2 separate regions of the Homo sapiens genome follow, and region 1 is linked to region 2. The links come from fine-mapping of genetic effects on gene expression. Tissue or cell type: whole blood. Region 2 holds a variant in brackets; the other region holds the start of a gene. All regions are shown on one strand. Distances are from middle to middle. Region 1 holds the start of GOLPH3 (golgi phosphoprotein 3). Region 2 has its middle 31 kb from the start of GOLPH3.

Region 1 (16,439 bases), 31 kb before region 2:
TTCAAAGGGAGACTCACAACATGAAGATAAATCCTCTAAACAAAGACTACAGCATAGTTTTATACTATTTAATCTGATTAATGGCAGTAGAAAAGTTATGCTGTTAGAAGGGGGGGGGAGTTTGCAAAGACATAAAAAAGTGTACAGCCAAAAGCTTAACATTATGTACCAGAACAAGCATAATGCCTGATGCCTCCAGGGTATTTAAGATTTACATGTAAGATGATATTATAAAAGTGTATTTCTTTAAATATCAAAAAAATCCCCCAAATATTTCAAAATCTATCAAAATAACTTCAAAATACAATTCTTTTGTTTTGTTTTGTCTTTTGAGATGGAGTTCCACTCTTGTCGCCCAGGCTGGAGTGCAGTGGCGCAATCTTGGCTCACTGCAACCTCCGCCTCTCAGGTTCAAGTGATTCTCCTGCCTCAGCCTCCCGAGTAGCTGGGATTACAGGTGCTCGCCACCATGTCTGGCTAATTTTTATATTTTTAATAGAGACAGGGGTTCACCATGTTGGCCAGGCTTGTCTTGAACTCCTGACCTCAGGTGATCCATCCACCTCGGCTTCCCAAAGTACTGGGATTACAGGTGTGAGCCACCGCACCCAGCCTTCAAAATACAATTCTAAAACGTAATTCAAATGCTCCATACAAGAACTCTCAGGTAGTCCAAAATTAACAAATATCAAATATTAGTATAACTTATGAGATGAGTTAGTGAATATTTTGACCATATTGTAAAAGAATCCCAAAGCACTAAAAAGTAATTTCAACAGTATAAAATCTTGTTGAAAAGGTATAATAAGCAGACCAGGCGTGGTGGCTCACACCTGTAATCCCAGAACTTTGGGAGGCCAAGGCGGGAAGATTGCTTGAGGCCAGGAGTTCGAGACTAGGCAACATAGTGAGACCACGTCTCTACAAAAAAAAATTTTTTTTTTTAATTAGCTGGGCATGATAGGGTGCGCCTATAGTCCCAGCTATTCAGGAGACTGAGGAGGGAGGATTGCTTGAGTTCAGGAGGTCGAGGTTGCAATGAGCCATGATCACACCACCACACTCCAGTCTGGAAGACAAAGCTAGGCCCTGTCTCAAAAGAAAAAAAGTACAATCAAATAGTTTAATGAACTTCAAAAGTAATTTCTGAGATCCTGTATATCTCATACCTGTGTTTAAACACCTGAAAAAAATAGATAAAAATTCAAAACTTCAAAAAATATGAAGGAAATATCATTTGTCTTAGAAACAACGAAAATTCATTAAAAACTCAGAAGCCTTTATTATATTTTAAATTACTAAAACTCAGCACATCTGGAAATTCTGAATACTTGTTGACTGAATTTCTGATTTACAGATTTGATATGTAGAGATGGTGGACATCACCACACGTATAGAAAGGAAAACAATTTTTGTTAAGTTATACATCTTCATCACTATTATACTTCAAAGTAGTGACCTTGGGAACCTTATTCCAAAAATGGAAAACATCTTTGGAGCCTGTGTAAAAGCCACACAAAAGTCAGTTCTATCATTTTGGTTAATCTTAAGTATTTTACCCCATTACATATTATTTACCTCAAGTACCTACTTATTTTTCAAGACATAGAGTTAAGTTACTGTATTACAGTTCTTGTCTACAAGCATTAGAAACATTAGTAACTGACTCTGGCTATCTTTAAAAAGCAACTTTACTGGAAGGCTGTTGAAACTCACAACACTGAAAGATGACTGGAAAATCAGACTGGAAAAAAACAGTGCCAACAGACCAGAGAAAGCAGCTCAAAGAACCATGCCAAAGAACAGTCTGATCCACACGCTGACATGACTCTGGAAAGGTCTCCAAAAAACCCTACAGCTCGTTATTCTCTCAAGATCCAAAGCCCTGAAAGAAAACATATGATTGGACAAGTCTGGCTGCATGACAAAACAGCAGGGGAATAATATGCTTCAAGAGTGCATCCTAGAGCCGGTCGCAGTAATCCCAACACTTTGGGAGGCTGAGGCGGGAGGATCACTTGAGGCCAGGAGTTCGAGGCTGCAGTGAGCTATGATCTCGCCACTGTACTCTAGCCTGGCGACACAGCACAATCTGTCTTAAAACAAAAACCAAAAAACACAACAACAAAAAAAAAAACAGGTGCGGTGGCTCATGCCTCTAATACCTGCACTTTGGGAGACTGAAGCGGGAGGATCACTTGATCCCAGGAGTTCAAGACCAGCCTGAGCCATGTGGTGAAATCCCTGTCTTTATAAAAAAAAAATTTTTTTTTAATTAGCTGGGCATGGTGGTGTGTGCCTGTGGTCCTAGCTCCTCGGGAAGCTGAGGCAGGAGGATCACTTTAGCCCAAGAGGTTGAGGCTGCAGTGAGCCAAGATCGCACCACTGCACTCCAGCCTGGGTGACAAAGAAAGACCCTGTCTCAAAAACAGGCAACACACTATGGGGAAACCCTAAAGTAATACAAAATAAAGCGAAGACCTGGGGAGGAGTTAATAAACATCCACAGCAGTACAATCAGAACCATCATATGGAATGACTACTTTTCCATTATACATGAAAACACTGAAGCTCAGAAGGCTTAAATTATATGTAAAAGCCAAAGAATACACTTTGGACAGGACTATAGAGCCTCTCTCTGCTTCTGCTGTTCCATAGGCATACTCCAAATTATACTTGGCCACTGAAAATAATTAAATCTAACCTTAAAAGACTAAGATTTGCCACCAATGAAGACATTCAAACATATATGACACCAGTTATTTGTGGTAATTCTCAATAAAGCATCCTGAAAATATTCTATGGAAAGCATCTATAGAATAAACACACACAGGGAAAGGAAAATACCTGGCACTTTTGCTGTCCCTCCCCCTCAAACACTGGGTCAATTAAAGAAATACTGCTAATTACTTGGCAGTTGAATTTAGGTGTAAACTATCTGCCATCCTTACTGTGGTCTTTAAAGAGTTACTTAAATACTTATGCACTGATTCTCTGCCCAAGTGAGCATGAAAATCTTCTGAGGGGACTAGCCATCCCTGTTTTATAAAAGCAAAAAACAAATATCATTGGTTAAAAAAAAAAAATCTGAAATGTGTAAAGAAAAAAAAAAAAATCAATCACAATGACTTTAGACTCACTCCTAACAGGTAATCTGAAGCCAGACCATCTGCTTATTCAAAAACTGAACCTTCTGTTCAGCAAAAAAGAGAGGGAGACTTGACTCAGAATATGTCAAAGTAATTTTTTAAATATTATAGATTATAAACATGTTAAAAATAAATTGGTAAGACAATAAGAACAAAGGACAATCTCACACGATATGGATGAATCTCACATTGAACAAAAAGCAGACACAAAGTACAAAAAACTAGGCAAAATTAATCTATGCTGAATTCTAATATTAAGCCAGTGGTTACCCCTGAGGAATGGGTAGTGACTGGAAAGATACTCAAGTGGAGGGCTAGGGCTTCTGTTTCTTGCTCTAGGTACTGGTTTAACAAGTATATTCACATAAGGTTATTAGCTCACATATATAAAATATTTCCAACATTAATGATTTGCTTAAATGTAAAGTTTAGCTTTTAAAGTTCTTAGGAGAATCCAGACATTAAAAAGATAAATGCTGAAGTAAAAATCAGTTAAAGCAATGAGTTAGCATAAACGCCTGGGCTCAGGGTAAGACAGCAATTCCTGCCTCCTAAAAAGAGTACTATAGGTTAAAAACATGGTGGCGAGCCTCCCAAGGGAAAAACATACCAACAGATAAGTTGACAGGGCTGGTTATTAGAGTGTAAAGACATGATGAGTTGGCTTGATGGCATGCACCTTGTATTCCCAGCTACTCAGGGCGGATCACTTGAGCCCAGGAGTTTGAGTGCAGCCTGGGCAACATCTTGAGACCTCCATCTCTTAAAAAAAAAAATTTTAAAGATGTGATGAAAGGAAAAAATATATAGGCTAATCCCTAAAACCAAAACCTAAAGCAATACAAAATCCCAGTAGTCTCAACCCCACCCCTCAACTCTCTGGACTTGCCTAAAAAAAAAGAGAAAAAATTTCCCCATGTGGTTGCTGAAATCAGGAAGAAATGCTCACAATAAGCTAGCAAGCATCTGGACCTTAGCCATGACTAGCAAAGTATAATGAGTGACTCTTGATGCAAAATAAACAGAACACATGGTTTCAATTACCCGCCAAATAACTTTAAATTGTTTAAATTATGTGAGTATGGTTAAACTTCAACAAATTATTTAGATTATCTTCTTAAGACCCAATCACCGAAAAACAGCATGTTAATATGCTTCACCTTAAACATTTAGAGCAAGGGTGTCCAACCTTTTGGCTTCCCTGGGCCACACTGGAAGAACTGTCTTGGGCCATATATAAAATACACTAACACTAGCAATAGCTGATGAGCTTTAAAAAAAAAAAATTGCAAAAAAAATTTCATAATGTTTTAAGAAAATTTACCAATTTATGTTGGGCCGCATTTAAAGCCATCCTGGGCCACATTTGGCCCGCGGGTTGGAAAAGCTTGATTTAGAGTAACATGTACTTGAAAAAACAAATAGGTATTTCCTCACTATAATTTCTCAGTGTGACTCAGAACACCAAAAGCTTATTTTTTAGTTTTTTTTTTTTCAGGTTTTTGTTTTCCACCGAGTTTTATCCACACGGAAAACTCTCAAAAACTATAAACCAAAATGTTCACTCAGGAATATGTTTTAATTTTGCTTTTCTTTTTTTTTGTATTTTCTAAAATGTCTATAATAATGTTATTTTTGTCCAAAAAGAAAAATGTTTATGGCCGGGCGTGGTGGCTCAAACCTGTAATCTCAGCACTTTGGGAGGCCGAGGCAAGTGGATCACTTGAGGTCAGGAGTTCAAAAGCAGCCTGACAAACATGGTGAAACCCCGTCTCTACTAAAAATAAAAACATTAGCAGGGCGTGGTGGTGCATGCCTGTAATCCCAGCTACTTGGGAGGCTGAGGCAGGAGAATCGCTTGAACCCGGGAGGGGGAGGTTGCAGTGAGCCCAGATGGCGCCACTGCACTCCAGGCCTGGGCGACAGAGCGAGATTCCGTCTAAAAAAAGAAAAAAAAAAAGACAAATGTTTATAATCAAGATTTCCAATTTTGAAACCTAAAGTTGAATATTTTCTAAAAATTACATTACTAGGACGCTATACCCCTAGTTTACTTTTTCATCCAAAGAACAAGGAACTGCACATACAGCCTGCTTTATCATCACAACTCAATAATTAAACAGGTACAGCAGCCCTTTCACAGCCAGAGGAACATCAACTTTTTTCAAGGTTACTGTTATTAAAACCTGAGAAATGGGAAACCAAGATATGGCAAATGCCCCAGACGTATCTATCAAGCTAACCGTTAGTTCATTAGATTTCTAAATAAGAAAGGTCCATAAACGGTCCATATAAAACTCGCCTATATCTAGTAAGTTTCAGTGACCAAGAAAGATTACGTTGTTTTGTAAGACTTTTTTTTTTTTTTTGCCCACCTTCCTGAATTTGGAAAACTTTCTTAAAATCAGGCCTGGGCGCGGTGGCTCAAGCTTGTAATTTCAGCACTTTGGGAGGCCGAGGCAGGCGGATCACTAGGTCAAGAGATCGAGACCATCCTGGCCAACATGGTGAAACCCCGTCTCTACTAAAGGTATGAAAATTAGCTGGGCATGGCGGCGCACGTCTGTAGTCCCGGCTACTCGGGAGGCTGAGGCAGGAAAATCGCTTGAACCCGGGAGGCGGAGTTTGCAGTGAGTGGAGATCGCGCCACTGCACTCCAGCCTGGGCGACAAACTGAGGCTCCGTCTCAAAAACAAAACAAAACAAAAACACAAAATTAGCCGGGCATGGTGGCGCATGCCTGCCTCAGGAGGCTGAGGCAGGAGAATCGCTTGAACCCGGGAGGCGGAGATTTCGGTAAGCCGAGATCGCGGCATTGCACTCCAGCCTGGGCAACAAGAGCGAAACTCCGTCTCCACATAAATAAATAATCATTTTTGTAGGCAAATATAACAAATACAGCAAAACGTCATAGAATCTAGAAAGAGTATATATGCATATGTATCTATCACTTTTTCAACTTTTCTGTGTGTGAAAATTTTGGACACTGAAGTGAAAATAAACGCTTTCAAAGTCAGAATACAAAGAATTATCTATTGCAACTTCAACCCACCTGAAGCTTTGAGGCCTCTGATCAACTCACAAACCTACATTTCAAGCACTCGATGAAAAAGCCCTTTCTTAAGACGGCAAGACTTTGAGATTCATCAACTGATAAAATATAAAAGCGATACTAAAAATAATCTCTCACCTAATGTAAGTTCACCTAGAAAGTCATTTACCAGGAGGTTTCATGAGAAACTTAACTTAACTTTACTCAGTAAAAGAGCTTTTCCCTCTATTACCACTTCGCCTACGTTTTTCGTAATTCCCAACAGTAAGCTTTAACTGAAGAAGAAGAAAAAAAAAACATCCCCAGCAAGCAGATCCGGGCACCCCTCCCAGGTCCTAAAGCCTGCAAAAACCCAAAGAGTTCGTGGCGCTGGTGGCTCCAGCTGTTAGTTTCCCGGGCAGTCTCCGGGTTGGATTTGCACCCTGGGGTCTACACGGGTTAAAAACGCGGAAAAAAGGCGACGAAGAAATACAAACTGCCAGGGTGTCGAAATGAAAGGAGCGACTGTGAAAGGGGTAAGGAAAAATCCAAGCCATCTCTACGGGGAGGATCCAGAAAGCACCAGCCGCGCCAGGGGGTCAACCAACTCCGACACCGCTCGGCGTCAGCTGGGCGCCACCAGGCGCGGACTTCGGAGCGAGGGCAGGTGCGCGGGCCGGAAGCCTCGGGCGCTCACCTGGCACCTACCTGGAGCTCACCTGGCGCCCGGGCCCCGCGCCGCCGCCCCCCGCCCAGCCCGCCGCGCCCGCACCTCGCGGTCCTTGAGGCCCAGCAGGAGCACTTCCTCCATCAGGGTCAGCCGCGTTTCCTTGGAGTCGCCCTTGTCGTCGTCGTCCTGCTCGTCGCGGCGGCTCTGCGCGTCGTCCTCGCTGCTGCCGGCGCCGCCGCCCGCCGCCCGCTCCTTGTCGGCGGCGTTGCGGGAGGCCTCGGTGCGCCGCTGCACCAGGCCGGAGCTGCGCTGGGTCAGCGAGGTCATGGCTCCCGCCGAGGCGCCGAGCCGGGCCGAGAGGGTCGCAGGACCGACCGGGTCGCCCTCCTCCTCCCCGCGCGGCCTCCGATCCGGGTTTCCGTGTTAAATCCGGACGCCGGGGCGACGTCCGTCGGCAGCAGGGCCGGGGGCAGTCATGAGGAAACAGGTCAGGGCGAAGCGGGCTGGCCGGGCGTCGGCGGGGCAGGAGAGGAGCGCCTTCCTGCCTGTGGCCGCAGTCCCCGAAACACCCCGAGCTCCAAGGCGGAGGCGGCGGCGGCGCCTTTCCAATATGGCGGCCCCGGCTGACGTCACCGGAGGATGTGGCAGAGTCGGCGCGGGAGAGCTGGGCCGGGAGGCGCCGGAAGCGGCGGCCGGGGATCCGCTGCCACTGCAGCCTACACCCTTCCCGGCCCTCGGTGCTTGTCTTTTCTTTGGCGTTCCTGCGCCCCCTGACCCGCGGTCCTGCAGTCCTGCTCCCGTGACGTGCCCTCCCTCCTTCCGTTCCCCGTTTCCCCTTCACTACCCAGGGCTGGAGCCTGAACCTGGCGGGGCCCCCCGTGAATGGAAGAGCCTGGGCCACGCGAAGGTGGACCCCACTCAGCCTCCAGCCGTGCCCTCCACGCCCCAGACACCGCCGTCTTCGGAGGCGACTCCGCGGTCGTGTGGACGGGGTCCCATTTGGACTCCGGGGTCTGCAGGATCGGCAGGAAGGACTTTGCTCTCTGCTGCTGGGCGGGGAGGGGTACGCTATCTGCCGGGACTCCCTAACCCTTTAGAAGGAGCAAGTGCGTCCAAATGGTTTGAAAGTGGACCTTTATTGTTTTCCAGGAGTAAGAAGATAGAACAGTTGACCAGTTTTGTTTGTAAAACTTCTTTCCTTGCCTCGGACTTGTGCTATAAAGTGACCAGGGCGTAGTGAGTACAGTTAGTACCGCACACGTTAGCACGCTCGACCTTAACGATCTTTTTATAGAGACAATAAACCTGCAGCGTTTCATGCCACGTCTTTGTACGCATCGGATGTCTCTCCGTGTAGTTACTAGGTGAAATCCTCTTGGCGTGCGCAAATTAGGTTAAAAAAATAGCTGTCAAACCTGAGACAGGAGTTGGAGGAGTAGAGGGTGGCGCTTGTTAAGTGAAACATTTAACCAGGAATGGTATTGTGTGCCATCCTGTATTAAACAATGTATGGACAGAGTGGAACAACAGCAAAGCAAAAAATAAAAATTTTTTAAAAAAAGTGATCATGGGCTGTGGCTAAAGAGTGCTTTAGATGGATTCTTCTCTTCCACAAATCCATTATCCAGAACTGCTGCTGCCTACCATCCCATGCCCTGGAAAGTGACAGTGCTAAATGAAGGGAAGAGAGGGTCCAGGGGGCACACCAAGTAGACCTTCCCTTTTTCCCACCTGTCTTGGTGAAGGTCGATTTCACCTCAACCAATTTCTCCCATTCACACCCTCTTTTTTTTTTTTTTTTTTTTTTTTTTGAGACGGAGTCTTGCTCTGTTGCCCAGGCTGGGGTGCAGTGGCACAATCTCGGCTCACTGCAAGCTCTGCCTCCCGGGTTCACGCCATTCTCCTGCCTCAGCCTCCTGAGTAGCTGGACTACAGGCGCCCGCCACCACGCCTGGCTAATTTTTTGTATTTTTAGTGGAGACGGGGTTTCACCGTGTTAGCCAGGATGGTCTCGATCACCTGACCTCGTGATCCGCCGGCCTTGGCCTCCCAAAGTGCTGGGATTACAGGCGTGAGCCACCGCGCCAGCCCACACCCTCTTTGGACCTTTTTTCTTCATCTTTTCTGATTTTACCAAATGTTGTAGCTTGAAATATTTCTTTGTAAAATAAATGTAATTAATTTATTATGTGAAAAAAGTTAATCAGGAGTAGTGGCCCACATCTGTAGTCCCAGGTCTTCGGGAGGCTGAGGCAGGAGAACCGCTTGAGCCCAGAATTTGAGGCTGCCATGAGGGTGATCGTGCCACTGCACACCAGCCTGAGAGACAGAGCAAGACCCTGTCTCAAAAAAAAAAAAAAAAAATTGGCTGGGCGCGTTGGCTCACGCCTGTAATCCTAGCACTTTGGAAGGCCAAGGCGGACGGATCAGGAGGTCAGGAGATCGAGACCATCCTGGCTAACACGGTGAAACCCCGTCTCTACTAAAAATACAAAAAATTAGCCGGGCGTGGTGGCGGGCCCCTGTAGTCCCAGCTACTCGGGAGGCTGAGGCAGGAGAATGGCGTGAACCCCGGAGGCGGAGCTTGCAGTGAGCAGAGATTGCGCCACTGCACTCCAGCCTGGGTGACAGAGCGAGACTCCGTCTCAAAAAAAAAAAAAAATTACTTGACTAATATAGTCAAGTATGTAGTTCAAAGAGTACAAAGATATGTGTAGTGAAAATCTCCCTCCCAGCTCTGCCCCTGTTCACCCAGTTGTTCTCCTTTCTCTCCTGAAGGTTTTAATGCCAACAAATCCTCTGATACTCCTCCCCTCAAAATGTGAAGCCTAATTTCCCTCCCCCTGAGTGTGGGCCAGACTTAGTGACTCTCTTGAAATGAATAGAATGTGGCCAACATGACTGTGTGGCACTTCTCAGGTCATGAAAGTCTATGCAGCTTTTTTCCTCCCCAGCTGCCCTCCACCCCCAGCCATCATGATGGGTGGGGGTGGAGGGCAGCTGGGGAAGAAGTGAGGGAGGAAGGAAGGAGATATTTTAAAAACAGGAAGAGGAAGAAAGGATATTTTAGGAAGGAAAAAAGAAGGAATTTTAGGAATGAGAATATTCCTAATTACAACAATGAGTGTTACTTTTTAAAAAATTTTTATTTATTTATTTATTTATTTTTGAGACAGAGTCTCATTCTGTCGCCCAGGCTGGAGTGCAGTGGCGTGATCTCGGCTCACTGCAACCTCCACCTCCAGGTTCAAGCAATTCCCCTGCCTCAGCCTGCCGAGTAGCTGGGATTACAGGCACATGCCACCACGCCCAGCTAATTTATTTATTTATTTATTTATTTATTTTTTTGAGACGGAGTTTTGTTGCCCAGGCTGGAGTGCAATGGCGCAATCTCGGCTCACCGCAACCTCTGCCTCCCAGGTTCAAGCGATTCTCCTGCCTCAGCCTCCCGAGTAACTGGGATTACAGGCATGTGTCACCACGCCTGGCTAATTTTGTATTTTTAGTAGAGACGGGGTTTCTCCATGTTGGTCAGGCTGGTCTCGAACTCCTGACCTCAGGTGATCTGCCCGCCTCGGCCTCCCAAAGTGCTGGGATTACAGGCGTGAGCCACCGCGCCTGGCACGCCCAGCTAATTTTTTTGTATTTTTAGTAGAGACGGGGTTTCACCATGTTGGCCAGACTGGTCTTGAACTCCTGACCTCAGGCAATCCAGCAGCCTCGGCCTCCCAAAGTGCCGGGATTACAGGCATGAGCCACCGCGCCTGGCCTTGATTGTTTGTTTATTGCCTGCTGAGATGTGCCAGGCGCGGTCTCCAGCAACCCCCACCAGGACCCTGCAGGTTAGGTGCTGCTGCTGTGCTGACCAGCTCCACATGGACTGCAACCATCTCATGCAGTGCGGTCTGGCAGCACCTCCATGCCTACCTACAAGTGTGGGAGAGTAAGCACTTCAAGCAGGTGGATAACAGGACCCCTTTCTTTCCTCACATGAACTGTCCTGAGATCGTTTATACAACTTCTCAGTAGCATTTAGCTCCAGCAAGCTCAACGACCCCTTCACTCCTCGCTTCCCTCCACTAGCTTCTGCTCCCAGCTGTTGCACTCCCTAATAAAGCACAAAAGACTTTGTCTTAGGCCCTGCTTCCTAGGGAACACAGATTAAGATGCCCATTTTACCTATGAAGAAACAGTTCAGAGAAGTTAAGTAATCTGCCCAACTTAACACTTCTGGAAAATCACAGACCTGGATTAGAACCCTGGTCCTTAATTCAGTATCAAACAAGTATATTTCTACATGTTTGCTGCATGCCAGGCATTGTCATAAGCAATAAAGATACAATACTAAGCCAAAAGAGACATAGCCATACTTTTCATGAAACTGACAGTTTAATGAAGGGCACAGATATTAAGCAAATCCTGATGCTAATTAATGTAGAAATGTAGAAATGCTTTGAAAGAAGGAATACAGTCCTATGAGATCATGTACTGTCATATATGTGAGAAACCTAAGTTTTTATCTGGGACTCAAAGCTGCTCTGAAGAAGTCATAAGCCAAAGAATGAACTGAAGTTAACCAAGTTGGAGGTAGAGGACATTCCTGAGAGGAAATATGCAAAGGCCCTGTAGCAAAAGACAGATCATGGGATGGAGGAGAACCAAGTAGAAGAGTTTTTACCTGGGCTGAGGGAGGGAGTGATGGCAAAAGCAATAGTTACAGACAAGGTCCAAATCATACAGTGCTGTCCATTTTAAGGCCATTTTAAGATTTGGGTCTTTTTTTTTTAGACAGGGTCTCGCTCTGTTGCCCAGGCTGGAGTGCAGTGGCGCAATTTTGGCTCTGCCTCCTGGGTTCAAGCGATCCTCCCACCTCAGCCTCCCAAGTAGCTGAGACTACAGGTGCATGCCACCACACTGCTGATTTTTGTTTTTTTGTGTGTTGTTTTTTTCTGTAGAGACAGGGTTTCACCATGTTGCCCAGGTCTTGAACTCTTGGGCTCAAGCGATCCGCCCGCCCTGACCTCCCGAAGTGCAGGGATTACAGGTGTGAGCCATCGTGCCTGGCCAAAATCTGGTCTTTATCCAACCAAACTCAATGGGAAGCTATCAAGGGTACTTTTAAATGCCCTCCGTGGGGGAAGAGGAGATGGGTGGGTGAGAGATGTTACCAGATTTGCATTTTGAAAAGCTTGCAGGATATACCCAAGGCATGGATATAGGATACAGAAGCAGCTCATTTTTGCAGTAGTCCTACAGAACCTGATGGTAAGTTCGACCACAATAGTGGAAGAAGAAAGGGTGGTAAGTGAATGTATTCAAGAGATAGTTAGTAAGTTAAACTGACACAACTCAATGAAAGACTGACTACGGAGTGTTGGGGCATAAAGGAGCGGAGATGTCGAGGATTACTCCCACTTCTGGCTTGTGTAGGAGAGGATGATATAGGGATCGCTGGGCAATGACCAGGTTTGCGTGAGTTTATTTCAGTTAAGCTTTTAAGAAGTATATAAAACTTCCAAGAGAATTTGTTGTGTAGGTAGTTCTATGTACAGAGTCTTTCTGGGTTTTTTTTATTGTTGTTTTTTGGTTTTGATTTTGCTTTGAGATGGAGTCTTGCTCTGTCACCATGCTGGAGTGCAGTGGCACGATCTTGGCTCGATGCAACCTCTGCCTCCTGGGTTCAAGTGATTCTCCTGCCTCAGCCTCCTGAGTAGCTGGGACTACAGGCACGCGCCACCACGCCCAGCTAATTTTTGTATTTTTAGTAGAGGTGGGATTTCACCATGTTGGCCAGGATGGTCTCAATCTCTTGACCTCGTGATCCACCTGCCTCGGCCTCTCAAAGTGCTGGGATTACAAGTGTGAGCCATCACACCCGGCCCAGAGTCTTTCTGTTTTAACCCAATAAAAATTTCAAAATGCCTAGAAAATGAAAGGCACCAGAAGAAAACTATGGGTAAATTCTTTTGTAATCAAGGAGAGAAGAAGCCTTTATTATCATGACTCAAAATCTGATTTTTAAAAATTTGAAATAAATTCACAGGAATTGCAAAATTAGTGCAGAGAGAGCTTGTATACCCTTAGTTTCCCCCAGTAGTAACATGTAACTATAGCACTATCAAAACCAGGAAATTAATATTGGTATGATCCACAGACATTATTCAGATTTCATGGGTTTTATGTGCATTGATTTATGTGTGTGTCATTCTATGCAATTGTACTACATGTAGATTTGTGTCAATACCACCACAATCAACATATAAAAATAAGCCAGGCATGGTGGCACACAACTGTAATTCCGGCACTTTGGGAGGCTGAAGCAGGAGGATTGCTTGAGCCCAGGAGTTGGAGACCAGCCTGGTCAACATAGCGAGACCCCGTCCCTACGGACTTTTTAAAAAAAATTAGCCAGGCATGGTGGCGATGCCTGTAGTCCCAGCTACCTGGAAGGCTGAGGCAAGAGGATCACTTGAGCCCAGGAATTTGAGGCTACAGTAAGCTCTGACTGTGCCACTGCTCTCCAGCCTAGGTCACAGAGTAATATCCTGTCTCTAAAAAACATAATAAACAAATAAAAAAAGATATAAAATTGTTCCATCATCACAGAGATCCCTCATGTTGCCCCTTTACAGTCATGGCAGCTCCAGCCCCTCTCCCGACTCTATCTCCGACTCCTGGCAACCACTACTTTGTTCTCCATCTATAATTTTGTCATTTGAGAATGTTATATAAATGGAATCATACATTATGAAGCCTTTTGAGATTTGCTTTTTTCACTCTGCATAATTCCCTTGAGATCTGTCCAAATTGCATACACCAATAGTTTGTTCCTTTTTATTGCTGAGTGGTAATTCATGGTACTCAGGTACCATATTTGTTTAACCATGGATCCATTGAAGGACTTTCCGGTTGTTTCCAATTTGGGGCTATCACAAATAAAACTGCGATGAACGTTCATGTACATGTTTTTATTTGTTTGTTGTTGTTGTTGTTGTTTTGAGACTGAGTCTTGCTCTGTCACTCAGGCCGGAGTGCAGTGGCACGATCTCAGCTCACCGCACCCTCCGCTTCCCGGGTTCAAGCAATTCTCTTGCCTCAGCCTGCCGAGTAGCTAGGATTACAGGCACGTGCCACCATGCCTTGCTAATTTTTGTGTTTTTAGTAGAGATGGGGTTTCACCATGTTGACCAGGCTGGTCTCGAACTCCTGACCTCAAGTGATTCGCCTACTCAGTCTCCCAAAGTGGTGGGATAACAGGCGTGAGCCACTGCGCCTGGCCTATGTTTTTATTTGGATGTAGTTTTCATTTCTCTGAGATGAACACCCAGGAGTGCAATTGGATCATATGGTAATTATATGTGTTTAATTTGTTTGTTTGTTTGTTTTAAGAAACTGAGATCCAGTCTGTACCTGGATCTAAAACAGAGAAAAAAAAAGGAAACTGGGAAATTGTTTTCCAGAGTGGCTGCATCATTTTACATTTCCACACTAGCTTTATTCTGAAACACAGCAGCATTATTGAACTAACTAGCAAATCTTCCAGAGGCTTTCAACAATCTTCTTTTTAAAAAAATCTGCTGCAAATATTTATTAAGCATGTATATATTCCAGAGAAGGCTGTAAATGTTTTCAGGTTGCTATGGTTTGAATATTTGTGCCTCCAAAACTCATGTTGAAATGTAAGCCCCAATGTAGTAGTATTGAGAGGTACAGCTTTTAAGAGGTGACTGGGTCATGATGGTTCTGCCCTCATGAATGGATTAATCCATTTACAGATTAATGGATTAATGGGTTATCATGGGAGTGGGACTGGTGACTTTGTAACAAGGGGAAGAGAGACCTAAGCTAGGAGTACTGTAATTAGCCCATTTTATGAAAAGAGAAACAGGCACGGAAAGATTCAAGATTTTGCCCAGGGTTACACAGCCTGGCTCTGGAGTCCATGTTCTTAACCAGGACCTGATAATAACTTAATGATTTTAGGGCCAAAACAACTACACAATGAGGTCCTTGTGGTAAAAGACATAAAAGTCTGAGGCAAATACAAAGACTAAATTTTATTTTATTTTTGAGTAAGTAATAAATTCATGTACTTCAAAATCAAAACAGATAAAAGGCCTGTACAGAGAAGTTCTACATTGGCCCATGTCCGTTGATTGTAGCCTTAATTTTAAGATAGTCCCATGATTCTTATCCCCGGCATTTACATTTTTCTCTAGTCCCTTCTTCCTGAGTGTGGGCAGAACTTCTGTCTTGCTTTTAACTAATAGAATGTGGCAAAAGGTGAAAGAATGTTGCAGATGTAATTAAGTCCCCTAATAGGTGGGGCACGATGGCTCTCGCCTGTAATCCCAGCACTTTGGGAGGTCAAGCCTGGCGGATCACGAGGTCAGGAGATTGAGACCATCCTGGGTAACACGGTGAAACCTCATCTCTACTAAAAATACAAAAAATTAGCCGGGCGTGGTGGCAGGTGCCTGTAGTCCCAGCTACTAGGAAGGCTGAGGCAGGAGAATGGCGTGAACCTGGGAGGCAGAGCTTGCAGTGAGCTGAGATCGCACCACTGCACTCCGGCCTGGGTGACAGAGCTAGACTCCATCTCAAAAAAAAAAGGCCCCTAATAAATTCATATTGAGTTCATCAAAAGAGAAACTCTCCTGGGTGCTATAGTTTGAATGTTTGTCCCCTCCGAGTCTCATGTTGAAAATTTGATTTCTGGCTGGGCACGGTGGCTCATGCCTATAATCCCAGCACTTTGGGAGGCTGAGGTGGGCAGATCACTTGAGCCCAGGAGTTCAAGACCAGCCTGGGCAACATGGTGAAACCCTCTCTCTACCAAAAAATCAAAAAATTAGTGAGGCATGGTGGTGTGTGCCTGTAGTTCCAGCTACTTGGGAGGCTGAGATGGGAGGATCACCCGAGCTCAGGGACATCAAGGTTGCAGTGAGCCATAATCATTCCACTGCAGTCCACTCCAGCCTGGGCAACAGAGTGAGATCCTGTCTCAAAAAAAAAAAAAAAAAGAAGAAAGAAAAGAAATTTGAAATTTGATCCTCAATGTTGGAGGATCAAACAGAGGGCCTAAGGCCCTCTGTGTCGGGGGCAGAGCAAGTGAGTTCTCATTCTGTTAGTGCCTGTGAGACCTGGTTGCTAAAAACAGCCTGACACCTCCCCTCTCACTCGCTCTTGCTTCCTCTCTCACCACGTGATTTCTGCAGACACCAACTCCCCTTTGCTTTCCACTATGAATGGAAGCAGCCTGAGGACTTCATCAGATGCGTGGTCTTCCTGCCAGCAGAATCAGTCATGAGCCAAATAAACCTTTTTTTTATAAATTACCCAGTCTCAGGTGTTCCCTTATAGCAACACAAAATGAACTAAGACATTAAATGAGCCTGACATAATGAGCCTGACATAATCGGGTGGACCCTTAAAAGAGGCTCTAACCCTTCCCTAACAAGGGAGACTTGAGTCAGCTGAGATGCTCTTCTGATGGCCTTCAAGAAGAAAACAGCCATGTGTGAACTGCCTATGGAGAAAGGTGGCCTCTAAGAGCTAATGGTCTCCTCTTATAATCACAAGCATCCGA
Region 2 (16,439 bases):
GCTTCTGTTATCCCAGCTGCTCGGGAGGCTGAGGCAGGAGAATTGCTTGAACCAGGGAAGCAGAGGTTGCAGAGAGCTGAGATGGTGCCACTGCACTCCAGCCTGGGCGACAGAGCGAGACTCCATCTCAAAAAAATAAAAAATAAAAAATAAAATAAAAAAATGAAAGAAAGGAAGGCTTATAACACAAATGTAGAAAGTTTCCATTAGAATTAGTCATCTCTCACTATAGACAGCCACCCTGGAGACAACATGGAAGCATCATTGATTCTTTTTTTTTTTTCTTGAGACGAAGTTTTGCTGTTGTCGCCCAGGCTGGAGTGCAGTGACGTGATCCCAGCTCACTGCAACCTCCACCTCCCAGGTTCAAGCGATTCTCCTGCCTCAGCCTCCCGAGTAGCTGGGTTTACAGGTGCATGCCACCATGCCCGGCTAATTTTTGTATTTTTAGTAGAGACGGGATGTCACCATGTTGGCCAGGCTGGTCTTGAACTCCGGACCTCAGATGATTCAACTGCCTCGGCCTCCAAAAGTGCTGGGATTACAGGCGTGAGCCACCACGCCCGGCCCATCATTGATTCTTTTATCCTATTAGCCTCTGCTAATACATTTTGCCTGATTATACTAATGGGTACCTCATGACCTGGAAATTTTAATATCTTTTCCAAAGGTCGTTACCCACTTTGAGGTAATATAGCCTTAGCTAAGTCTGAAATCATAGCTCTTTTCAGCCTTTTGGTCTGTCCTGTCAGTTTTATTTTTATTTATTTATTTGTCTCAGTAAAAGGGGAAAGGGGAGAAATGAGTAGGTTTGCTTTCTGCAAAGGCCAGATCACTGGGCAAAGAGGAACATAAATGTCAGATGGGCCTTACACACTGAATTGTATTGCACCTGACATGTTAGTAAAACAGTGGCAATTCTTCCAGCTACATCAAAGACACACCCACCAGTCTGAGATGTGCTCCCACTCTTAACCAAGCTCTTAAGGGGCTGGGGTGTCAATTCTATTCCAGTTACCACTGACCTGACATCTCCCACTTGTTCCTCATGAGAAAAGTTTATTTTCTTTCTTTTGGAGATGGAGTATCCCTCTGTCACCCAGGCTAGAGTGCACTGGTGCAAACTTGGCTCACTGCAACCTCCGCCTCCCCCGGTACAAGCAATTCTCCTGCCTCAGCCTCCGGAGTAGCTGGGACTACAAGCATGCGCTACCATGCCCGGCTAATGTTTTTTGTATTTTTAGTAGACACGGGGGTTTCACCATGTTGGCCAGGCTGGTTTTGAACTCCTGAGCTCAGGCAATCCACCCGCCTCAGCCTCCCAAAATACTAGGATTACAGGCGTGAGCCACCACGCCCAGACAAAAAGTTTCTTTTCAATGGTGGTTTGTGTGTTCATTGACAGGCATCTTTCAGATTGCCTAACTTCAAAAATAAAAGAATGTTTTTGGTTTGCAATAGAAAAATAAGCCTATAAAGGCTATTAGAATTTGAACTAAGAGTTGAACCTTAAGACAGGGATGATATGAAATTACGATCTAGAAAGATGAGATTGAAGAGATCAGTTCTTTGGCTGATGGGATTTAAATGACTGAAATAGACAAGATGAAGTACCAGTGTCCAGCCCCCGTGGTCTCTCCACTGTGCTATTTCATCAGGAGTAAAGTAGGGAGAGTAACAAAGTGGCGTGATGGAAGCAGGGAGGTCCCTCCATCTTTCATTTCTGAAACTTATTACCATCCTTTACTTCCCTCCCTGTCCCCTTCCATGAAACATGCTCATAACACTCCACAATTATCACTTTTGTTTTTCTCCTACCCCAGGTAAATTATTTCCATGGAAGTAGCTCAGTTATGTGCGTGTGTGTGTGTGTGTGTGTGTTTACAGGTGGTTATTAGGACTTACAATTCTACCAGTGGTATAGAGAGTTTTAGTTGCTCGCCATTCTTTTTTTTTTTTTTTTTTTTTTTTGAGAAGGAGTCTCACTCTGTCGCCAGGCTGGAGTGCAGGGGCACGATCTCGGCTCACTGCAACCTCTGCCTCCTAGGTTCAAGCAATTCTCCTTCCTCAGCCTCCCAAGTAGCTGGGATTACAGGCACCCGCCACCAGGCCCGGCTAATTTTTGTATATTTAGTAGAGATAGGGTTTCACCGTTTTGGCCAGGCTGGTCTCGAACTCCTGACCTCAGGTGATCCGCCCGCCTTGGCCTCCCAAAGTGCTGGGATTACAGGTGTGAGCCACCGCGCCCAGCCGTTGCTCTCCATTCTTGCCGACAACTGGTATTGCTGGCTAAACATGTTTTACATATTTGTGTAAATATATAAAATATGTGGAGTGTTATGAGCATGTTTCATGGAAACATGAAGGCACTGTCTCATTGTGGTTTTAATTTTCATTTCCTTGATGATTAATAATGTTGAGCACATTTTCTTTGCTTATAAATATGCATACATTTTTAACCCAGCAATTACATTTCTGGGACTTTACCCAGAAGAAATACACACACACACACACACACACACACACACACACACACACAGAGAAACTGGGAATATCCAACAATTGTATTTTGGTGAAATATATTATTTTTGGTGCATTCATACTGGGAAGTATTACAGTTGCCTAATGATGACCATCACCATTAATATCTCAAGGTGGTTAACTCTAAGTGATAGAACAACAAGTGATTTTTAATATGTTCTTAGCTTTTATTTTCTGAATTTTTCATAGTGATTATATATTGCTTTTATATTCAGAAGAAATGGCAAGGGATACTTCTACTTTATTTTGGAACAAATGAAAAATACAATCTTAACCTGACAGAATACCAACAATTCAATCATGAGCAATGTTTTTTGGGGGTCAATGAGTTCCTCATTTAAAATGCAAGAGGTGTGCCCATGTCTTTCTAAGTCCTATTCTATCTTTAAAAAAAATTGGGACTCCTTGGAAGAATGGCTGGATACGGGGCTGGGGCAGGAAAAGCACAAGGTTAGCCAGGAACACAGGAACATTCTGATATGCCAGAAAGTAAGAAAGTGAGAAGGAAGGAAGGAAGAAGCAAGGAAGGGAGGGAGGGAGGGAGGGGAGGGGAGGGGAGTGGAGTTGGGAGGGGGGAAGGAGGGAAGGGGAGGGGAGGGGAGGAGAAGGAAGGGGAAGGGAAGGAAAATATCGGGACATGTCAAAAGGACAAGAGCTAGTTTGAAGGAGAAGGAGAGCCCGCTGGCCAAGTCTGGGATAATTTTGAGCTAAAAATAAATCAGGACAGTAAAGGATTACAACTTATTGAATAAAACATTAATCATCAGGCCAGGCGCGGTGACTCACACCTGTAATCCCAGCACTTTGGGAGGCCGAGGCGGGTGGATCACGAGGTCAGGAGTTCAAGACTAACCTGACCAGCACCGTGAAATCCCATCTCTGCTAAAAAAAATACAAAAAAATTAGCCGGGCGTGGTGACACATGCCTGTAATCCCAGCTACTTCGGAGGCTGAGGCAGAAGAATCGCTTGAACCCAGGAGGCAGAGGTTGCACTGAGCCGAGAACGCGCCACTGCACTCCAGCCTGGCAACAGAGCGAGACTCCGTCTCAAAAAAAAAAAAAAAAAATTAATCATCAATTCAGGCAGCTGATAAGTAGGTAAATAAATAGATGGAGGTAGTAAGGGAGGGCTTTCCTTATAGTGAGATGTACATTAGATTGATACATGTGGAGGGAGGGATGGAGTTGAAAAATCACTGTTTTGCTATCATCAAAGCAAAAAATTGGGCAAGAAATAGCATTGATTGCTAAATCTAGGGAGATAAAGTCTGATGAAAGACAGGATATTTAGTCAGTCCTAACGTGGCTCTCCACAGATTACTTATTAGTTGCAAAAGAAAAATAGTAACTTATCAGTGAAGAAACTGGACAATACTGGGATCAGGTGACTAAAATTAACCCAGGGACAGATTGACACACTGTGCCTCCAGGTACCCTGAAAAGAATATAACATCACTTTTTTCATAGTTTGGCAGGGGACCAAAAACCTGAATTAAGTCACGAGGAAACACCAGGCAAGCCCAACTGAAGAACATTCTATAAAACAACCGATTTGTGTTCTTTAAATATATCAATGTCATGAAAGAGAAAGAAATTCTGAAGAACCATTCCAGATTAAAGAAGATTAGAGAAACATGACCCCTTCAGGCATATATGTGATCCTTGGTTGAAACTTGGACTGGGGGGATGCTGTAAAGAACTTTATTGGTATAATTGACAAAATTGGAATATGGATTATAGAGTAGGTGAAAGTACGTATCAAGGTTAAATTTTCTGATTTGATAATTGTATTTGGATTATGTAAGAAACTATATTTGTTCTTAGGAACTACACATTGAAGTATTAAGAGTATAATAAAGGCATGATCTTTATAACCTCAAATGGTTTGGAAAAAATAAATACAGAGGGAGGGAAGAAGAGAGAATAATTAAACAAATGTGGCAAAATGTAAAAAAGTTGGTTAATCTGGACTGGGCGCGGTGGCTCATGCCTGTAATCCCAGCACTTTAGGAGGTCAATGCAGGTAGATCACGAGGTCAGGAGATTGAGACCATCCTGGCTAACATGGTGAAACCCCGTCTCTACTAAAAATACAAAAACAAAGTTAGCCAGGCGTGGTGGCGAGCACCTGTAGTCCCAGCTATTCGGGAGGCTGAGGTGAGAGAGTGGTGTGAACCCTTGAGGCAGAGCTTGCAGTGAGCGGAGATTGTGCCACTGCACTCCAGCCTGGGCGACAGAGCGAGACTCCATCTCAAAAAAAAAAAAAAAAAAAATTTGGTTAATCTGAATCATGGCTATATGAGAGTTCTCTATTATTTTTGCAACTTTTCTTTACGTTTGGAATTATTCAAAATCATGCCCGGCCTAAAATTTAATTTTTATTTGCTCCCAACCATTTGATTTTGCCCTCCAAAGAGCAGCTACACTTATGACTAAGACTTTTTGTTTTATTTCATGAACACCAATGTTAGTTCAAGAGAAATCATTCCAGTAGATGAGATCAGTTGTTGGGTGGAAATGTGTGTTTAGAAATACTGATGATACTTTAGGGAAATATCCACCCAGCATTGCACCAAGTCCACACATGGTCCAAATAGAACTAGGGAAGAAATCCTAATCTGAATTTTTTAACCTCTTATATAATGAACATTTCATGGTATAATTTATGGTTTTCCAACCACATTTCAGCTTGTATGACTAAGTAAAGCCTGCCAGTTTATTATCCAGAATACAAAGTTAGGTGTGCAAAAACATAATCTTGTGTGTCTATAATTAGACTTTATTTATTTATTTTTCTTTTTTTGAGATAGAGTCTGGCTCTGTCACCCAGGCTGGAGTGCAATGGCAAGATCTCGGCTTTGCAGCCTCCGCCTCCTGGGTTCAAGCAATTCTCCCACCTCAGCCTCCAGAGCAGTTGAGACTACAGGCACACTACACCATGCTCAGCTAATTTTTGTATTTTTAGTAGAGATGGGGTTTCACCATGTTGGCCAGGTTGGTCTCGAACTCCCAACCTCAAGTGATCCACCCGCCTCGGCCTCCTAAAGTGCTGGGATTATAGGCATGAGCCACCGCACCCAGCCTTTAATTTCTATCTAAAGCCTTCACTCTGCTTTTGTATGAAAACTTAATTTTAGTCAATTTGGGTGAAACTGTCAATTCAGGATGTTTTCAGTCATTTCCGGGTTTTCCCACTTCTTTCTAGCGTCCCATATAGGCTTTAAGGGGAGATCCTCTTAAACCATACTAAGACGTGGCATGAGAAAGGAGCTTTGTAGTGAATTCCTATAATTTTACTTTGCATTCATTTTGAACACAAGTGGACTTCCCCATACCAGAGGCAAGGTTTAGTCACCCTTGACACAGTTTCCCATTTTCTTTTTTTTTTTTGAGACAGAGGCTCGTTCTGTCACCCAGGCTGGAGTGCAGTGGCCTGATCTCAGGTCACTACAAGCTCTGCCTCCCGGGTTCATGCCATTCTCCTGCCTCAGCCTCCCAAGTAGCTGGTACTACAGGCGCCCACCACCATGCCCGGCTAACTTTTTTTGTATTTTTTAGTAGAGACAGGGTTTCACCGTGTTAGCCAGGATGGCCTCGATCTCCTGACCTCGTGATCTGCCCGCCTCGGCTTCCCAAAGTGCTGGGATTACAGGCGTGAGCCACTGCGCCCGGCCAGTTTCCCATTTTCTGCCTCTGCCCAGTTCCTCAATGCAATGGATCCAGATGTCTGCCTTATGCAACCACTACCTGGTGACCACTCCCTCCCAGGGACAACAGGATACAACCCACTTCATTGGTCCCACTGATCCCCGCACTGCACTTTGTACATATGCTGCAGTCCCATTGTGACTCCGGAGATCTGCCACCTGCTTGCTGTTAACCTGCCAGGTAGAACTCCCTGCAGGAAACTCACCTGAGGAACATCCTGGAGCCCAAACCCACAGGTTTCTCTGTCTGTCTATTGCTCCCCACTTGTTGATGGAGCGCACATGTCCCAAGATAGCACCCTCCTTCCATTAGCCCTGTGTGTGAGGCAGTCACCCGCTTCCCTCTGGGATCTGTAAGTCATAAACTACTTCTGTTATTTCATATGTTTCATTGAGATGTCGCTTTTACATCTCACCTAACTGCCACGCAGAACCCAGCTCCTTTCCCGGCCAGGGCTCTCCTAGGGAGTGGTGGTCTTGGCAGGAATAAACTGGACAGAGGTCAGACAAGAGCCGCAAGTGTGTCTGCCAGGATAAACAAGTCTATCCTGTGAGAGGGACAGCTGATAGAGAGTTGGACACAGGCATCAGGTCAGCTGCTAAAATTGAGAGGAGTCCCCTAAAAGGCACATCATAAACATCGTGATCAAATCTCCTGAAGACCTGTCAGGGCTCGGCTAGTTTACAGCCACTCTCTGGAGGAAGACCTCAGGACCAGATGAGAGAAAAGTAGAAGGCGGCTCTCTCCTGGCCTTTGCGGTTGCGTGTCCCCGTCCTGCACAAGACCCTTTGGATTCCTTGACCCTCTCTCC[G/A]CTCCTCCAGACCACTCTTGGGGGTATGGAAACCATCATCTTGCTCTTCTCCCCTGCCACTCTAGACCACCTCGGACTTCTCTTATGATATGCCCCCCGGCCCTGCCACCCCATCATCTACCCTACCAGCCCTTTCCATGGTGTGTGGGGAATTCTACGAAATGTGCTCTTTTGGGGGCTACCAATGGGGAGTGAGACATAGGTCTCCTCTACTCAGATTCCCAAGTCAACATTATGGGTTGCAGGGCAGGAATGCTGACATTCCTCTGCACATATTCAGGGGACTCAGGGGCAGTCCCAGGGAGCAAGGGGCTCTGCCTCTGCCCTGCTCTCCACAGACTCTTCTTCCCAGAGGAGCTTTAGTAAAGGGAGGTGGGGGAAAGGGAACAAGGAGTCCTTCAGGGCCCTGCTCTGCTCTTAATACTTGCAGTGCCTTATGCTGAGCTCACGCCTGTAATCTCAGCACTTTGGGAGGCCGAGGTGGGTGGATCACCTGAGGTCAGGAGTTCAAGACCAGCCTAGCCAACATGGAGAAATCCCATCTCTATTAAAAATACAAAAATTAGCCAGGCATGGTGGGCACCTGTACTCCCAGTTACTTGGGAGGCTGAGGCAGGAGGATCGCTTGAACCCAGGAGGTGGAGGTTGCAGTGGAGCCGAGATGACTCCACTGCACTCCAGCCTGTGCAACAGAGTGAGACTCCATCTTAAAAACAAAACAAAGCAAAACAAAACAAAAAATACTTGTAGTGTCTTTTATGATGGTGTACAAATTAAAAGCATTACACAGGAAAGAAATCACATCCATTAACTTTTTTTTTTTTTTTTTTTTTTTGAGACAGAATCTTGCTTTGTTGCCCAGGCTGGAGTGCAACGGCATGATCTCCACTCACTGCAACCTCCGCCTCCTGGGTTCAAGCAATTCTCCTACCTCAGCCTCCGAAGTAGCTAGGATTACAGCTGTCTGCCACCATGCCCTGCTAAACTTTTTTGTATATTTAGTAAAGACTGGTTTTACCATGTTGGCCAGGCTGGTCTTGAACTCCTGACCTCAGGTGACCTACCCATCTTGGCCTCCCAAAGTGCTGGGATTACAGGCATGAGCCACTGTCCCTGGCCACATTAACTATTTAAAATACCCATGACTGAGTTTTTCCAAAGTTGGAATCAGAGGAAGCACGGTTTCTCTTCTGTGTAAACTTTAAGGTGTTAGTCTGTCCAGCACTTGGAAGGGAGGGTGTTTGCTACATGAACTTTCACCGCATGGTGCAGTGTTCCTAGGGTAGATTCTGCAAACTGGTTCACCCAGTGTGCCTCTCTGACCTTCTCCTAACATGCAGCTAACCTCATAGCACTAACTGTATGCTGCACACTATTTTGTTTGAAGCTTTTTTTTTTTTGACACAGGGTCTCACTCTGTTGCACAGGCTGGAGTGCAGGGGTGCAATCACAGCTCGCTGCAGCCTCTGCCTCCCGGGTTCAAGCAATCCTCCCACCTCAACCTCCTGAGTAGCTGGAACTATAGGCGTGTGCCACCACGCCCAGCTAATTTTTTGAATTTTTTGTAGAGGCAAGGTTTTGCCACGTTGCCCAGGCTAACTTTAAATGTATTAATTCATGTTATCCTCATAAAATCCCTATGAGGTACATACCACTATTATCCCCATTCTCCAGATGGAGAAACTGAGGTAAAGAGAGATTAATTAATTTCCCAGAGTTATAGTTAGAAAGTCACAAAGCCAGGATTGGAACCTAGGTAGTCTGGGGTCCGAGTTTATGCTATTGATAACTACAATATGCTACTATGATCAAAAACATCTGTGTTAGCTGAAAATGGAGGAAATCCATTTTTCCTAAACAATTACAGATATAGGCTCAGAATCTTTTTTTTTTTTTAAGGCAGAATCTCACTCTGTCACCCATGCCGAGTGCAGTGGTGTGATCATGCCGCACTGCAAACTCAACCTCCCTGGGCTGAAGCCTCCCACATAGCTGGAAATAACTACAGGCCAGCTAATATTTTATTTTTTGTACAGACGGGTCTCACTATGTTGGCCGGGATGATCTTGAACTCCTAGACTCCAATGATCCTCCCGCCTCAGTCTCCCAAAGTGCTGGGATTATAGGCGTGAGCCACCATGCCTAGTGACTCATATTTTATTTAACAATTCTGTTGACAGAACAAAAATAATTTTCAATGCACACCCATTTCCTTAAAAAGAACCTTGTTTCCAAAAGAATCATGAAAAATAAAATAAAAATAGATTACATTCTGTATTAGGAAACCCTTGGTGATCTACTAAGGACTGTGGCAAAATTACCTGCCACCAGATGTGTAGGCACAGCTCTGCTAGATCTTTCCACTTTAAATTTCGCTTTCAGCTTAGTCTCCAGCTCAGCAAGAAGTAACCTTCCTTCATGAAATTTACATCTTCTCAACGTGAGGCGGCTGCTGACTAAGTGTTTTAGCCAACTGTTCTACATAACAAATTACCCCCCAAATTTAGTAGTTTAAAACAACCAAACAATTTTTATGATCTCACAGTTTCTGTGGGACAGTTTTTGTAAGGCGGGATGGCCTAACCAGATCCTCTGGCTCCAGATCTCTTACAAAACGGCAGTCAAGGTTTGGTGTGGGGCTGTAGACCAGGTTTCTGGCTCACTGTTCAAATGGGGGAGGATCCATTTCTGAGCTCATTCGTGCGGCCATTGGGAGGCCTGAGGCCCTCAATGGCTGTCAGCCGGAGACATCACTTTCATGCCACATTGACTTCTCCATAGGGCAGCTCTACAAAATGACAGCTTCCCTTTCTCAAACCAAGGGCTCCACAAAAGGGAAAGAGGTATCACAGTCTTCTGTGATCTAATCACTTGCGCCATGTCCTGTTTGTTGGAAGCAAGTGACTAGGTTCACCCATACACAAGGAGAGAAGATTACACAGCCATGAACCCTGGGAGCCATGTTAGAGGCTGTCTGCCCTACCGAGTAATTTTTTTCTTCCTGTTAATTAGCATTTTTGGAGCAGCCGCCTGCCTTGGCCTCCCAAAGTGCCGAGATTGCAGCCTCTGCCCGGCCGCCACCGCGTCTGGGAAGTGAGGAGTGTCTCTGCCTGGCCGCCCATCGTCTGGGATGTGAGGAGCCCCTCTGCCTGGCTGCCCAGTCTGGAAAGTGAGGAGCGTCTCCGCCCGGCCGCCATCCCATCTAGGAAGTGAGGAGCGCCTCTTCCCAGCCGCCATCACATCTAGGAAGTGAGGAGCGTCTCTGCCCGGCCGCCCATCGTCTGAGATGTGGGGAGCGCCTCTGCCCCGCCGCCCCATCTGGGATGTGAGGAGCGCCTCTGCCCTGCCGAGACCCCGTCTGGGAGGTGAGGAGTGTCTCTGCCCGGCCGCCCCGTCTGAGAAGTGAGGAGACCCTCTGCCTGGCAACCACCCCGTCTGAGAAGTGAGGAGCCCCTCCGCCCGGCAGCTGCCCCGTCTGAGAAGTGAGGAGCCTCTCCGCCCGGCAGCCACCCCATCTGGGAAGTGAGGAGCGTCTCCGCCCGGCAGCCACCCCGTCCGGGAGGGAGGTGGGGGGGGGTCAGCCCCCCGCCCGGCCAGCCGCCCCATCCGGGAGGGAGGTGGGGGGGTCAGCCCCCCGCCCGGCCAGCCGTGCCGTCCGGGAGGGAGGTGGGGGGGTCAGCCCCCCGCCCGGCCAGCCGCCCCGTCCGGGAGGTGAGGGGCGCCTCTGCCCGGCCGCCCCTACTGGGAAGTGAGGAGCCCCTCAGCCCGGCCAGCCACCCCGTCCGGGAGGGAGATGGGGGGGTCAGCCCCCCCACCCGGCCAGCCGCCCCGTCCGGGAGGGAGGTGGGGGGGTCAGCCCCCCGCCTGGCCAGCCGCCCCGTCCGGGAGGGAGGTGGGGGGGTCAGCCCTCCGCCCGGCCAGCCGCCCCGTCTGGGAGGTGAGGGGCGCCTCTGCCCGGCCGCCCCTACTGGGAAGTGAGGAGCCCCTCTGCCCGGCCAGCCGACCCGTCCGGGAGGGAGGTGGGGGTGTCGGCCCCCTGCCCGGCCAGCCGCCCCGTCCGGGAGGGAGGTGGGGGGGTCGGCTCCCCACCCGGCCAGCCGCCCCGTCCGGGAGGGAGGTGGTGGGGGGTCAGCCCCCCTGCCCGGCCAGCCGCCCCGTCCGGGAGGTGAGGGGCGCCTCTGCCCGGCCGCCCCTACTGGGAAGTGAGGAGCCCCTCTGCCCGGCCAGCCGCCCGGTCCGGGAGGGAGGTGGGGGTGTCGGCCCCCCGCCCGGCCAGCCGCCCGTCCGGGAGGGAGGTGGGGGGGGGGTCAGCCCCCCTGCCCGGCCAGCCGCCCCGTCCGGGAGGTGAGGGGCGCCTCTGCCCGGCCGCCCCTACTGGGAAGTGAGGAGCCGCTCTGCCCGGCCAGCCGCCCCGTCCGGGAGGGAGGTGGTGGGGGGGTCAGCCCCCCCGCCCGGCCAGCCGCCCCGTCTGGGAGGTGAGGGGCGCCTCTGCCCGGCCGCCCCTACTGGGAAGTGAGGAGCCCTTCTGCCCGGCCACCACCCCGTCTGGGAGGTGTGCCCAACAGCTCATTGAGAACGGGCCATGATGACAATGGCGGCTTTGTGGAATAGAAAGGCGGGAAAGGTGGGGAAAAGATTGAGAAATCGGATGGTTGCCGTGTCTGTGTAGAAAGAAGTAGACATGGGAGACTTTTCATTTTGTTCTGCACTAAGAAAAATTCCTCTGCCTTGGGATCCTGTTGATCTGTGACCTTACCCCCAACCCTGTGCTCTCTGAAACATGTGCTGTGTCCACTCAGGGTTAAATGGATTAAGGGCGGTGCAAGATGTGCTTGGTTAAACAGATGCTTGAAGGCAGCATGCTCGTTAAGAGTCATCACCAATCCCTAATCTCAAGTAATCAGGGACACAAACACTGTGGAAGGCCGCAGGGTCCTCTGCCTAGGAAAACCAGAGACCTTTGTTCACTTGTTTATCTGCTGACCTTCCCTCCACTATTGTCCCATGACCCTGCCAAATCCCCCTCTGTGAGAAACACCCAAGAATTATCAATAAAAAAATAAATTAAAAAAAAAAAAAATTAGCATTTTTGCCATCCTGGTTTGTTTTTTCTTTGATGCAGGGTCTTGCTCTGTTGCCCAGCTGGAGTGCAGGGGCGTGATCACAGCTTACTGCAGCCTTGACCTCCCGGGCTCAAGCAATCCTCCTGCCTCAGCCTCCTGAGTAGCTGGTTCTGTAGGCATGCACCACTTTGCCCAGCTATTTTTTAAATTTTTTGTAGAGATGAGATCTCCCTGTGTTGCCCAGACTGGTCTCAAACTCCCGGGTCAGGTGATCCTCCTCCCTTGACCTCTGAAAGTTCTGGGATTACAGGTGTGAGCCACCACGCCTGGTCTCCATCCTGTTGTAATAAAATGTTATAATAAAAAGAAACCCCATCTCTACTAAAAATACATACGTGGAGGTATGTGTTCAGGTATTTGGACTCCCAGATGAACAATCTGTAACATTTGGAGGTAGGAGGCTCCCTTTGTTTGGAATATGCCTACCCCCCTCCGGTATACCTTTGCCCTGCCTATGATCTGTGAGTTAGAGTTAATTATGCATGAAAAGAGACTGAAGAGACTCAGTGGGTGTCCAGGTCTAGGAAATGCAGCTGAATAGAGCAGCAGTGCTGTGGGACCACCAGGTCCACTGTGCTTCCAAGACTTTGTTCTGAATAGTCTTGGGGCCCAAGCTCGGTGTGGAGAGGGTGAATGAAGGATGGGTGGTTTGGGCAGGGGAGAAGAAATGCACTTGGCACGAAAACTGCTGAGAGGACATTCCGTGAACCCCCTGGGGGGGGTGGCTTGGCAAGTCATTTCACCCCTCTGGGCTTGAGTTTATCCTCTCTAAAATGACATGGTTGAAGAAGATACTCTCTACATTTTGTGACTAGTAGAGAGAATTTGTGAGACCACTAATTAAGAATGAGTGTATTATCCAGCCTGGCCAACATGGTGGAAACCTATCTCTACTAAAAATAGAAAAATTAGCCAGGCATGGTGGTGCACAACTGTAATCCCAGCTACCCGGGAGGCTGAGGCAGGAGGATCACTTGAACCCAGGAGGTGGAGGTTGCAGTGAGCTGAGATCGAGCCACTGCACTCCAGCCTGGGTGACAGGGAGAGACTCCATCTCAAAAAAAAAAAAAAAGTATGAGTTTAGGTGTTTAAAAATGAGAGGTAGAAATAAATGCTGATTTACAATGTTATACACAATTTATAAGATTTTAAAGATTTTTTTTCTAATTTTGATAAAGTTCCATGTTGTTGTGAAGACTATTGCTTTGTAAATAGTGTGGGGGGTACGTGTGTGTGTGTGGACAGTACATGTACTCTTCTGTACACACACGCACATGCACACCACACATGATTACCATGGAAGCCGCCATGTCAGTGCGCCATGATTCTGCCCGTGTGCAGGTGACTGCCTCAGGGCTGTGTACTTATCCCAGCTGAGACACTCTCAATCCTTACTCTGGAGATTTAGATCTGAAAGTCCCAGGGTTATAAATTTTTAAGTCAGGGGCTTTAGGATGCACATTTTCCCTCACTTGGACCAGAGAAAACTGATCCAGAGAGAAAGTGGGGAGGAAACAGAGTAAACAAACTGAGAGGAGCCCCTGAGATGGAGAAAGAACGTAGGCAGCATTTGCATTTCTGGTTCCAGTAACTGGGGAGGCCCTGCTATTTCCTGTCATTGAGTTTCTGAGATAGAACAGGATCCTTATGACAACTTCCCCCTTTGGTTAAAGCACAATCAATTTGGGTTTCTCTCTTTCGCAACCAAAGGGAAAAAAATCAATAGCTAACTCACAAGTTCATTGTAGGGAAAAAGTTCAATTAAAAAATATATAAAGAGGCCGAGTGTGGTGGCACATGCCAGTAATCCCAGCACTTTGGGAGGCTGAGGCGAGTGGATCACTTGAGGTCAGGAGTTTGAGACCAGCCTGGCCAACATGGAGAACCCCATCTCTACTAAAAATACAAAAATTAGCTGGGTGTGGTGGCAGGTGCCTGTAGTCCCAGCTACTCAGGAAGCTGCAACAGAAGAATAGCTTGAAACCGGGAGTCAGAGGTTGCAGTGGGCTGAGATTAAGCCACTGCACTCCAGCCTGGGTGACAGAGCGAGACTCCAACTCAAATAAATAAATATATATATATATATATATAACCCCAAATATATGAACATCTAATGTGTCAATAAAAATAAAATAATATATAAAAAGGAGAAAAAAATGACCAATAAATCCATTGCTTTGAGATAACTTATCTTAACATTTGGGAATGTTTTCCTGCTACTTTTCCATGCATTTATGTAAATTAAACTAGAATTTTGACTTTTTTTTTTTTTTTTTTTTTGGAGACAGAGTCTCACTCTGTGGCCCAGGCTGGAGTGCTGGAGTGCAGTGGCATGATCTCGGCTCACTGCAACCTCCACCTCCCGAGTTCAAGCAATTCTCCTCCCTCAGCCTCCCAAGTAGCTGGGACTACAGGTGCCCACCACCAGGCCTGGCTAATTTTTTGTATTTTTAGTAGAGACAGGGTTTCACTGTGTTGCCCAGGCTGGTCTTGAACTCCTGAGCTCAGGCAATCCACCCGCCTCGGCCTCCCAACGTGCTAGGATTGCAGGTGTGAGCCACAGCATCCGGCCATGATTTTTAAATTCATACTTTTTTCACTGAATATATTGTGGCAAGACATACTATTTGATTGCACAACAGGGTGACTATAGCCAATAATAACTTAATCGCACATTTTTAAATGAGTCTAATTGGATTGTTTGTAACACAAAGGATAACTGTTTGAGGGGATGGATAGCCCATTCTCCATGATGTGCTTATTTCACATTGCATGCCTGTATCAGAACATCTCAGCCGTGTGCGGTGGCTCATGCCTGTAATCCCAGCACTTTGGGAAGCCGAGGTGGGTGAATCACGAGGTCAGGAGATGGAGACCATGCTGGCTAACACGGTGAAACCCTGTCTCTACTAAAAATACAAAAAATTAGTTGGGCGTGGTGGTGGGCACCTGTAGTCCCAGCTACTCTGGAGGCTGAGGCAGGAGAATCACTTGAACTCGGGAGGTGGAGCTTGCAGTGAGCAGAGATCGCATCACTGCACTCCAGCCTGGGCAACAGAGTGAGACTCTGTCTCAAAAAAAAAAAAAAAGAAAAAAAAGAATATCTCATGTACTCCACAAATATATATACCTACTGTGTACCCACAAACATTTTTTAATGTAAAAAAAAGAAAATATTATGGACATTTTCTTATGTCAGTTAATATACCTCACAATATGATTTTTTTATTATTTTATTTTTATTTTTTTTTACAGTCTCACACTATTGCCTGGGCTGGAGTGCAATGGCACAATCTCAGCTCACTGCAACCTCTGCCTCCTGGGTTCAAGCGATTCTCCTGCCTCAACCTCCCAAGTAGCTGGGATTACAGGTGCCCACCACTACGCCTGGCTTATTTTTTGTATTTTTTAGCAGAGATGGGGTTTCACTATGTTGGCCAGGCTGGTCTCGAACTCCTGACCTTGTGATCCACCCACCTTGGCCTCCCAAAGTGCTGGGATTACAGGCGTGAGCCACTGCGCCTGGCCCACAATATAATTATTATGATTATGACGATTTGTGTTTATGAGATTTTTGTAAATGTATTCTTGTAGTATGAGTGCAAAGACAAATTCAGTTTGATTTGATCTATTTCTGAGAATAAGATCTGTGATGTAATTAATAGGAAAGAAAAAATGGCTAACATGGAGGGGCGATATTGATTTCTACTAAATGAGATAAAGAATAAAGTATTTGCATAATGTAATTTCCTTGAAAACTGATCATTGATAAAAGCCACTCTTTCTTTCTCCTTTACCATTTACCCAAACACAAGGAAGTAGTTCTAGAAATAAAAATAGTTTTTAGAAAAAAAAGTCAACGTTTACTAAGCACTCCCTATGACCAACATTGTACTATGCACCTTTCATGGACTGCTTTTTAAAATACTCAAGTAATTATATGTAATATCTAGTCAAAAAATGGGTATTTCAAATTCCCCTCTTGATACTTACTGCAAGAGAAACGACATCAATATAAGTTTTGCTGGCCAGGTGCATAGCTAGACTATACCTATAGTCCTAGCTACTCAGGAGGCCAAGGTGGGAGGATTGCTTGAGCCCAGGATTTTGAATCCACCCTGGCCAACATGACAAGACCCTATCTCTTAAAATGAATAAATAAACAAATAAATAAAATAGGGGTACTCAATAGATAAAATATTTATTTATTTATTTTTAATGGTTTAATGTTTAATGATAATCATTGTTTTGCCAT

What was found.
Region 1: GOLPH3 starts here. The variant in region 2 is fine-mapped to the expression of GOLPH3 in whole blood (TOPMed, PIP above 0.99).

What each region holds. Positions count from the first base shown.
Region 1 is chr5:32,166,858-32,183,296 of GRCh38, forward strand. It overlaps GOLPH3 (golgi phosphoprotein 3), which reads right to left and starts at 7,462. Exons shown (of 4, transcript NM_022130.4): 1 at 6,953-7,462. The coding sequence starts at 7,177. RefSeq lists a silencer at 6,746-7,355.
Region 2 is chr5:32,197,519-32,213,957 of GRCh38, forward strand. No RefSeq gene overlaps it. Among named protein-coding and RNA genes, the nearest start is that of GOLPH3, 31 kb to the left of the region's middle. RefSeq lists a silencer at 14,087-14,246. The variant G/A (reference allele first, on the strand shown) is at 7,062.